3 separate regions of the Homo sapiens genome follow, and all the other regions are linked to region 2. The links come from fine-mapping of genetic effects on gene expression. A gene starts in region 2. Each other region holds a variant in brackets. All regions are shown on one strand. Distances are between the middles of the regions. Region 1 has its middle 27 kb from the start of LINC02473. Region 2 holds the start of DHX15 (DEAH-box helicase 15). Region 3 has its middle 28 kb from the start of DHX15.

Evidence for each region. PIP is the estimated chance that this variant, and not a neighbour inherited with it, causes the effect. A credible set is the group of variants that fine-mapping cannot tell apart.
Region 1: its variant is the best candidate, but not a certain one, in a credible set for the expression of DHX15 in sun-exposed skin (GTEx, PIP 0.54).
Region 3: its variant is the best candidate, but not a certain one, in a credible set for the expression of DHX15 in whole blood (TOPMed, PIP 0.55).

What each region holds. Positions count from the first base shown.
Region 1 is chr4:24,685,491-24,688,251 of GRCh38, forward strand. No RefSeq gene overlaps it. Among named protein-coding and RNA genes, the nearest start is that of LINC02473, 27 kb to the left of the region's middle. The variant C/T (reference allele first, on the strand shown) is at 1,214.
Region 2 is chr4:24,583,311-24,586,071 of GRCh38, forward strand. DHX15 (DEAH-box helicase 15) reads right to left here and starts at 1,244. Exons shown (of 14, transcript NM_001358.3): 1 at 1,013-1,244. The coding sequence starts at 1,083. RefSeq lists silencers at 503-552, 753-832, 843-962 and an enhancer at 1,143-1,682.
Region 3 is chr4:24,611,172-24,613,932 of GRCh38, forward strand. No RefSeq gene overlaps it. Among named protein-coding and RNA genes, the nearest start is that of DHX15, 28 kb to the left of the region's middle. The variant G/A (reference allele first, on the strand shown) is at 1,490.

The DNA.
Region 1 (2,761 bases), 100 kb after region 2:
TTTCTTCCTGGAAAGGGAAGTCCTCTCTCCAGCACCTCTGGGATCTTGGTCATCCCTGAGGTGCTCTGTCTTTATGAGAATTTTTCTACCCTGGATCTGTTTATGAGAAAGGGATAACAGTATAATTTAAAAATATATAGGAGTGGATGAGTGAAAAATAAGAGTCATCTTGGATTCTAGCTTTAGGAAAGGGGGACCAATTTATGAAAAGTTTGGGAGATGTGATCAGGAGAGCAAAGAATGGTTAGTTTACAAAGAGAATTAGGTTAACTAACAACCAGCTTCCAAAAGCTTAATTAAGTCTCTCAGCCCTCGAGTGAGTCAAGGAAATAATTGATTTCCACATTGCTGGTGGGGAAAGTGAGGAGGGGGAGGTAATTTGCCTGTGGCCAACAAGGGAAACAGCATTTGTCCTGGGATTAAAATCTAAGATTTTCTGGCTCTTGGTCCTTGGTTTTACCTTTGAATCTGGAATGCTCAAGGCCCAGAAGTGAGAATCCCAAAGCAGGACTCTCAACCGAGATGCTGTATGCAAATAAGGGACCAGATAATTAATGCTTCGCTCTTTAGTAATTTTCTGTCCTTCAAAAAGGTAATGCAAACAATGCGCCCCTGGTGAGTCAAGGCCGTGTGGGTTTATTTTAATAAGCACCGGCACTTTTCCTTATGAGGCGTGGCCATCACCCAGTGCAGTTACCTGTGATACTAGAAAATATTTGGAAATCTCAAAATATAAACAAATGTCTGGAAAAGATCAGAGAGAGAAAAAAATGAAAGAGAGAAAAGAAGAAAAGAAAAAGTAGTAACAGGAGGGGAGGAAAGCATTCTAGAAAAAGAGTAACTACTAATTATTGAATGCTTGCTCTGTGCAAGGAGCTTTTCAAATGTTTCCTCATAAGAATTCCACGAGGTAGGCATTTGATGACTTTAAATGGATGTAAAAACTGAGGCTTAGAGGGGTGAGGCTTTTCCCAAGCTAGGAAGGGGCAGGACCAGCATTTGAGTCCAAGTCTGTTAAGTCAGCCTTAACCACGGCCTGGTACTGCCTTCTGCCTATAGATCTGACCAGAAGAGAGCGGGAAGGAAGGGGTGTTAAAAATGCATCTGCTTACAGGCCAGGCGTGGTGGCTCACGCCTGTAATCCCAGCACTTTGGGAGGTGGGCAGATGGCTTGAGAAGGCTTGGTAGACCAGCCTGGGCAGCATGGTGAGAC[C/T]CCGTTTCTACAAAAAATACAAGAATTGGCTGGGGGTGGTGGGGCACACCTGCAGTCCCAGCTACTCGGGAGGCTGAGGCAGGAGGACTGCTTGATCCAGGAAGGTCGAGGCTGCAGTGAGCTGAAATCTCACCACTGTACTCCAGCCTGGGCGACAGAGCTAGGCCCTGTCTCAAAAAAAAAAAAGAAAAAAATTATTCATCTGCTTATTCATCTGCTTACTTGTCTGTTTTCCTCTGCTGTGTTGTAATCTCCTTGAGTATCAGAATCAAGATTTAATCCTTTGTCTCCCCAGAGCCTAAAGTAGTTCTTGAAAGGCAACAGACAATAAAAGTTTGATGCATGAACAAGCAAATGAACATCTGCAACGAGCCCAAGGCCAAGGGTCAAATATCTTGCCTTCTCTAACCCTGAAGTCATCTGTCATCTCTCTGGCTCTCAAAATCTAGGGAACTGGTTTGTCTTCCTCCATCCTCCACACACCCAATTCTATGGCCCGGGAAGTAAGTCCAAGGTCTTGTCTGGAACCTCTGGAAATTCCTGGGTTTAGGAACAGCCTTGTGCTCTCATTACCCCCCTTAGCCTCCTGACCCTGGTGTCTGTCCCGCTGTTCCCACTACGCCCATGAATCAAATCCTGACTCTGTCACTTGCCAGTTATGTGACCTTAGGTAAGTCAATTTTGGATTCTGGGATTCAGTTTCATCCTCTGTAAAATAAGTGCCTTGACTTAGATAAGGATGGCAAACCCAAATGCCTACAAGGATCAGGCAAATATTGAAAATGAGCGATGCAGATCGCCTAAGACGATAGGGAGTGGGGAAAACGGAAAAGCAGGCGGGAAAGGGCGCCCCCTGGCAGAGAGAGAAGCTACTACCCATCTTTACCTGTTATTACGTAGGAATGAGCGCTCAGTGTGGTCACATTTCCAGTTTTTTTTTTTTTTGGTAAGATGCGGGAAGTCTGGATTTTTATGTGAAATCTTTCAATTCTTAAATGTTGACACAAAATTTTTCAGAAACGCAGCGTGAGCCAAACTCAACACATCTGTGTGCCGAATTCAGCCCATGGCCTCCAGGATACAGCCTTTAGACCAGATGATGCCTAACATCTTTTCCACCTTTGAAAGGATTTGGCCTGGTGGCAGATCATCCCTTCAATCTGGATGTTTTTGGCTCTCTGGACTATTTTTGCTACAGTTTAAGCAGGGTGGACCAGGGCTTAAGAGTAACTGTGTTTATAAACACCCTGAAGAATTCCATATGGTATGCCGAATGTGAAGTTGGCTTAATTTGAAAAGATTAAATGTACTCAGGCAATTGCAGAGTTGTCTGTTTTGCAAATCAATGCAATTTGTCGGTACAGGCCGGGAAGGAATGAGCTTTGGGAAGCGCAGCTGGTGTGACCAACAAGCCCAGTGGTAGTATCATAACAGGAAAGCCAGTGTGGCAGCAGCTCCCTTCTCCAACACTCACATCTCCTCTTTGCATGCACTACACACACACACACACACACACACACACACACACACCCTTGCCTCTTCCCTGAT
Region 2 (2,761 bases):
AAAGGAATCTGGAACACCAAGAGTTTGTGTAAGTATTTCAACTCTCAACCTCCACATGGGCGGTGTTTCGCCATAAATACTAAAAACACGTTTTGAACATGATCCCTGTATTTCAAAAGCTACTTATGAAGAAAAGTGGGACATGCATAGAAAATAAATGATGAAAAAAAAAAACAATGCCTTCTAATCCCTCCCCATGGGACGATGTTCAGTAACCAGTTTTAACCAAAGCAGGAAATACAGGAGATGGCGGGAGCGTAGGCAGAGAGCGGAAGTTTGCTAGTATCTACTTTGAAGTGTTTGAATGGACCAAGGCACGCTCTCTCCCGCCAAACTATAAACTCAGTCGCCCCAAAACACCAGCCTTCCAGCCCATCAGGTATATTACTCCACGTTTTCCTTTCTCCCGGCAGGTCCTCTACTCCCACCTCCCCCGAGAACTCCCTATTTGCTGGCTTCTCTCAACTCCCGCCACCCCCATCCCAGCCTACATTATGATCCACGCGCTGCTCTCACTTTCCGCCCTCCGCCTTTCCCGTCTGGAGTGCCTGGCCGCGCCCCCACCCAGGCCCTCCCCACGGCCCCTCTGGCTGGGAAGTGCCTGCTGCCCTTGGAAGCGAATACTCCCACCGCGCCCTCCCCCACCCTCTCCTCCGGCTCCAGGCCTTCCTCGGGAACCGAGGCCACGAGGTCCGCGGTTCACTCCCGCCCGACGCCCTCGCAAATGACTCCCGCTCGGTTCGGCCTGGGGGAGGAGGCGCCCTCATGGCTACTGCAGGCCTCTCCACCCTCCGGACTGGGCTGGGCAGCGGCCCCGTCGCACGCAACCCCCCGCGCCCTTGCCGGGCCGAACGGGCGCCGCGCTTCTCCTACCCGCCGCTAGTGAACCCAGCCCAGAGAGAAACAAAGGCTCGGGCTCCAGGACCCGCTCGGCCAGGCCAGCCCCGGCCCGCTCCCTGCCAGGACCCCAACAAAGCCCGAGCTGCCGCCTCGCGCCCCCGGCCTGGCTTACCCATCGGTCCCCGCACGCTTCTTGCCAGAGGGGTAATCCTCCCCTAGGTCCAACCGGTGCCGCTTGGACATCCTCGCACTCTTCGAACGGGCAGTTATTAAGGAAGAAAGCTGGCTGCTGTATGGGCACAGTCGAGGACAGCCACTTAACTCTGGAGGACCCCCACCCCTCCCGCTACTACAGCCCACACGGTGCGGCCGGAACCAACAGCTAAAATGGCGGCGGCGACGAGGGCTGGGCCTGCGCGCGCGCGCGCTTCCGCAGCGTGCGTGCGTGCGAGTGTGCGTGTGAGCGAGGTGCGCGCGCACGACGCCCAAAGGCGGGAACTCCTGTCCCGCCCGCTGCCTCATTGGTCCGACCTTTCTTGGGTCTCCTCCCTCTTCCTGTAGCTTTCCCCTCCTCGGAGCGGCTGTTAGGAAGAACCTGAAGGCCTTCACTTTCCATTTCAGGCTATCCTTGCCCCTCTGAGTCAAGAAATTGAGAAAGTCTAGTCCTAGTTAGGAAATCCTATTCATTTCTATTACCCCGGCTTTAAGGGAATCTCAGACCCAGAGAGGTTGAGAAACGAATGAAGATCGTACAGCTAATAAGTGGCAGAGCCGGGATTGGAACCCAGCTATTTAGTAACTCCAGATCTGGAACTTGCGGCCACTGCGCTACCCTCAGTTGCAGTGAGGGGCCGCGCGATGGTTCACGCCTGTAATCCCAACGCTTTGGGAGACCGAGGCGGGTGGATCACGAGGTCAGGAGTTCGAGACCAGCCTGGCCAACACGGTGAAACCCCGTCTCTACTAAAAATACAAAAATTAGCTGGGCGTGGTGGCGTACGCCTGTAATCCCAGCTACTCGGTAGGCTGAGGCAGGAGAATCGCTTGAACCTGGGAGGCGGAGGTTGCGGTGAGACGAGATCACACCAGTGCACTCCAGCCTGGACGACAGAACAAGACTCCGACTTGAAAGAAAAAAAAAAATCAATTGCAGTGAGGAAACTGAAGTGAGAAAATGTTAAGGCTTGTCATGATCTATTTTGCCCTTTTCTTGCCCAGCACGGACACCATGCACCCAAGCTATAGATGTTTTTAACTAGAATACAGAGAATTCGCAGTGAGGGCACAATTTGCTTTTTTGTTTTTTGTTTTTCTGTGCCTATTAATGCACTTTCGCAGTGTTAAATAACACCCTGCAAGGTAGTTGTTATTTTGTAGACGTAGACGCAAAGGCTGAGGAAGGTTACATCTCCTAGCCATAAGGGCTGTACCTAAAGCCATAACAAGGAGGTGGGGCAAGATGACTCTAAGGATTTTTGTGGATCTCTCCCCCTAGAATATGTCTGCTTCCTCAGTTGCATTTGTTCCCAGAAGAAATGCACAAGAAAAGATCTGTGGACCATCTGCAGCAGGGTGATCTCTGTTGTTCATGGAATGGCTTGGTTTGGCTGCCCTGGAAGACCATACTCTGGTTCTTATCCAAATCTCAGGACTGCAATTGCTAGGATTAAATGCAACTTAAATATTGCAACTGATGAGGGGTTTGTGTGTTTGTTTTGAGACAGTCTTGCTCTGTCGCCCAGGCTGGAGGACAGTGGTGCAATCTCAGCTCACTGCAACCTCCGCCTCCCGGGTTTAAGCCATTCTCCTGCCTCAGCCTCCCTCCTAGCTGGGATTATAAGCGCCCGCCACCACGCCCGGCTACGCGCCCGGCTAATTTTGGTATTTTTAGTAGAGACGTAGAGACGAGGTGTCGCCATGC
Region 3 (2,761 bases), 28 kb after region 2:
AACGTGCCACCCAGACCTCCTTCAAGAATGAAGGACTGATTTCCTCAGCATTTGCAAGGAGTGCTGTCAGCAGATAGCCCTCAGTTGTCAGCCTCTCCAAGAATTTCCTCATCTGGAGAGCTACCTCACTCTAGGGCACATTCCCTCCCCCAGGATAGCCTGTGTCTAATGACTGATCATTATGGGAATGTATACCATAATCTGGGCCAAATTGAGAGGGCTGTATCCCAGCTTCAGAGTTCCCTTTGGAGTCAGCTTAGGCTTTTTAAAAATAACCTCACTGGCCAGGTGCGGTGGCTCACGCCTGTAATCCCAGGATTTTGGGAGGCTGAGGCGGGCGGATCACCTGAGGTCGGGAGTTTGAGACCAGCCAGACCAACATGGAAGAGACCCTCTCTCTACTTAAAATACAAAATTAGCTGGGCGTGGTGGCGCATGCCTGTAATCCCAACTACTCAGGAGGCTAAGGCGGAAGAATCGCTTGAACCTGGGAGGTGGAGGTTGCGGTGAGCCAAGATCACGCCATTGCACTCCTGGCGTGACAGAGTGAGACTCTGCGTCACATCCAAACTTTATCCTCTGCCCAATACCGCTTTATTGCCTTTTTCTCCACTGGTGTGAATCCCAGGAGTCTTTCACAATAAACTTTCTGCATGCTAATCTCAGTTTCCAAGACTGCTTCCCAAGAAGCCCAACTTAAAATACTAGGGTTGGTTTCGTTTTCAATTTGAATAACCTCCTAAAAAATTCTAGATGAATTGTCAGAGACTTTGAAAGGTTTAAGTTTTTGGCTGGGCGTGGTGGTTCACGCCTGTAATCCCAGCAATTTGGGAGGCAGGGGCGGGCGGATCACTTGAGATCAGAAGTTTGAGACCAGCTTGGCCAACATGGCAAAACCGTCTCTACTGAAAATACAAAATTTAGCCAGGCATGGTGAAGCATGCCTGTAATCCCAGCTACTTGGCAGGCTGAGGCAGGAGAATCGCTTGAACCTCGGAGGCAGAGGTTGCAGTGAGCCGAAATTGCACCACTGCACTCCAACCTGGGTGACAGAGTGAGACTCTGTTTCAAAAATAAAAAAGTAAAAAAAAAGAAAGGCTTGTTTTCAGTCATTCATTCAAGAAATACTTACTTTGCACCTATTATATATTAAGCACAGTTCGAGGTGCTAAGGCTATAGTGATAAAAAAGATAAAGAAAATTCCTGGGCTCATGGCATTTAAATTCTAGTGGAGGGTAACAAACAATAAGCAAGTAAATAAACAAATAGGGTAATTTAATAGATTGATGAGGGCTATAAAAATAATATAGGGCAGTATGATAGAAAGTGATTGGAGGTGCTGGAGGTATGAAGGACTACATCAAAAGTGGGTTGGGGAAGGATTCTCTTAGAAGATGGCATTGAGCTAAGACAAAATGAAATCAGGTGTTTTAAAAAACTGGGGAAGAAACTCCAGGCAGACAAAAAAGCAAGTAAAAGGAGGGAAAG[G/A]AGTGTGAGTGTGTAAAATATAGGTGGGATACAGTGGCTTATTCCTGTAATTCCAGCACTTTAGGAGGCAAAGATGAGAGGATCACTTAAGGTCAGGAGTTCAAGACCAGCCTGGACAACATGGCAAAACCCCATCTCTACCTATGAAATAATATATGAAAGAGGTTGTAATGAATGGAGGTAGTGAACAAGACGAAGTAAACTGAGAGGTCAGTGAGGGAGACAGGAGCCAGATAGTGTTGGGTTTCATGGATCATTGTAAAGATTTCAGATTTATTCTAATTTCAATTGGAATCCATTGGAGGATTTAAAATAAGGGAGCAATATTATCTGTTTTACTTTTCCATAAGTCACTTCAGCTGCCACTGGAGAGTCAACTACGGGGAAAGAAGGAAAAAGTGGAAACTATTGAAGTATCCAGATGAGAAATGATGGTGATAACTATGGTCTGAATGTTTCTGTGCCCCCAAAATTCCTTTGTTGAAACCTAATCCCCAACGAGACAGTGTTAGGAGGTAGGGCCTTCGGGAGGTGATTAGGTCATGCAGATGGAGGCTACATGAATGCCCTTATAGAAAAGCCTGAGAGAGATTCATCACCTTTTCTACCATGTGACAACATGGGAAGAAGGCATCATCTATAAACCGGAAAGCAAGCTCTCACCAGATATTGAATCTGCCAATGCCTTAATCTTAATCTTTTCAGCCTCCAGAACCGTGAGAAATAAATTTCTGTTGTTTACAAGCTATTCAGTCTATGATATTTTGTTATAGCAGCCTGAGTAGACTAAATCAGTGACTAAACCTAAGATGGTGGCAATTAAACAGGTAAGATGTGGTTGCACTTGGGATATACTTTAGAGGAAGAGACAATAGGACATGGCAATGTATTGTCACAGCAGAAGGTTCGAGAATAGAAGGAAAGGAGAAGAATATAGGATGTCTGATCAACGGGGTGGATCATGTAACTACTTACTGAGATGGGGAGGATTGTGGTGAGTGGAGTTGAAGTGAATGAATCATGACTCTACTTCAGTCATACTGAATTTGAGATGCTTATTAGACATCCAGAAGTAGATATCAAGGACTCAGCTGTGTTTGATCTTAGGGCTGGAAATGTAAATTTGGGAGTCATCAGCATAAAGATATATTTAAGAAATGGAAGTAGCTGAGATGACTTTATCCACATAGAGAAGTAGAGTGAGAACCAACCCTGGTGTTCTTGTATTCTTTCATTTGCCGTTACAGATAGCTGGGAAGTATTAACCACCAA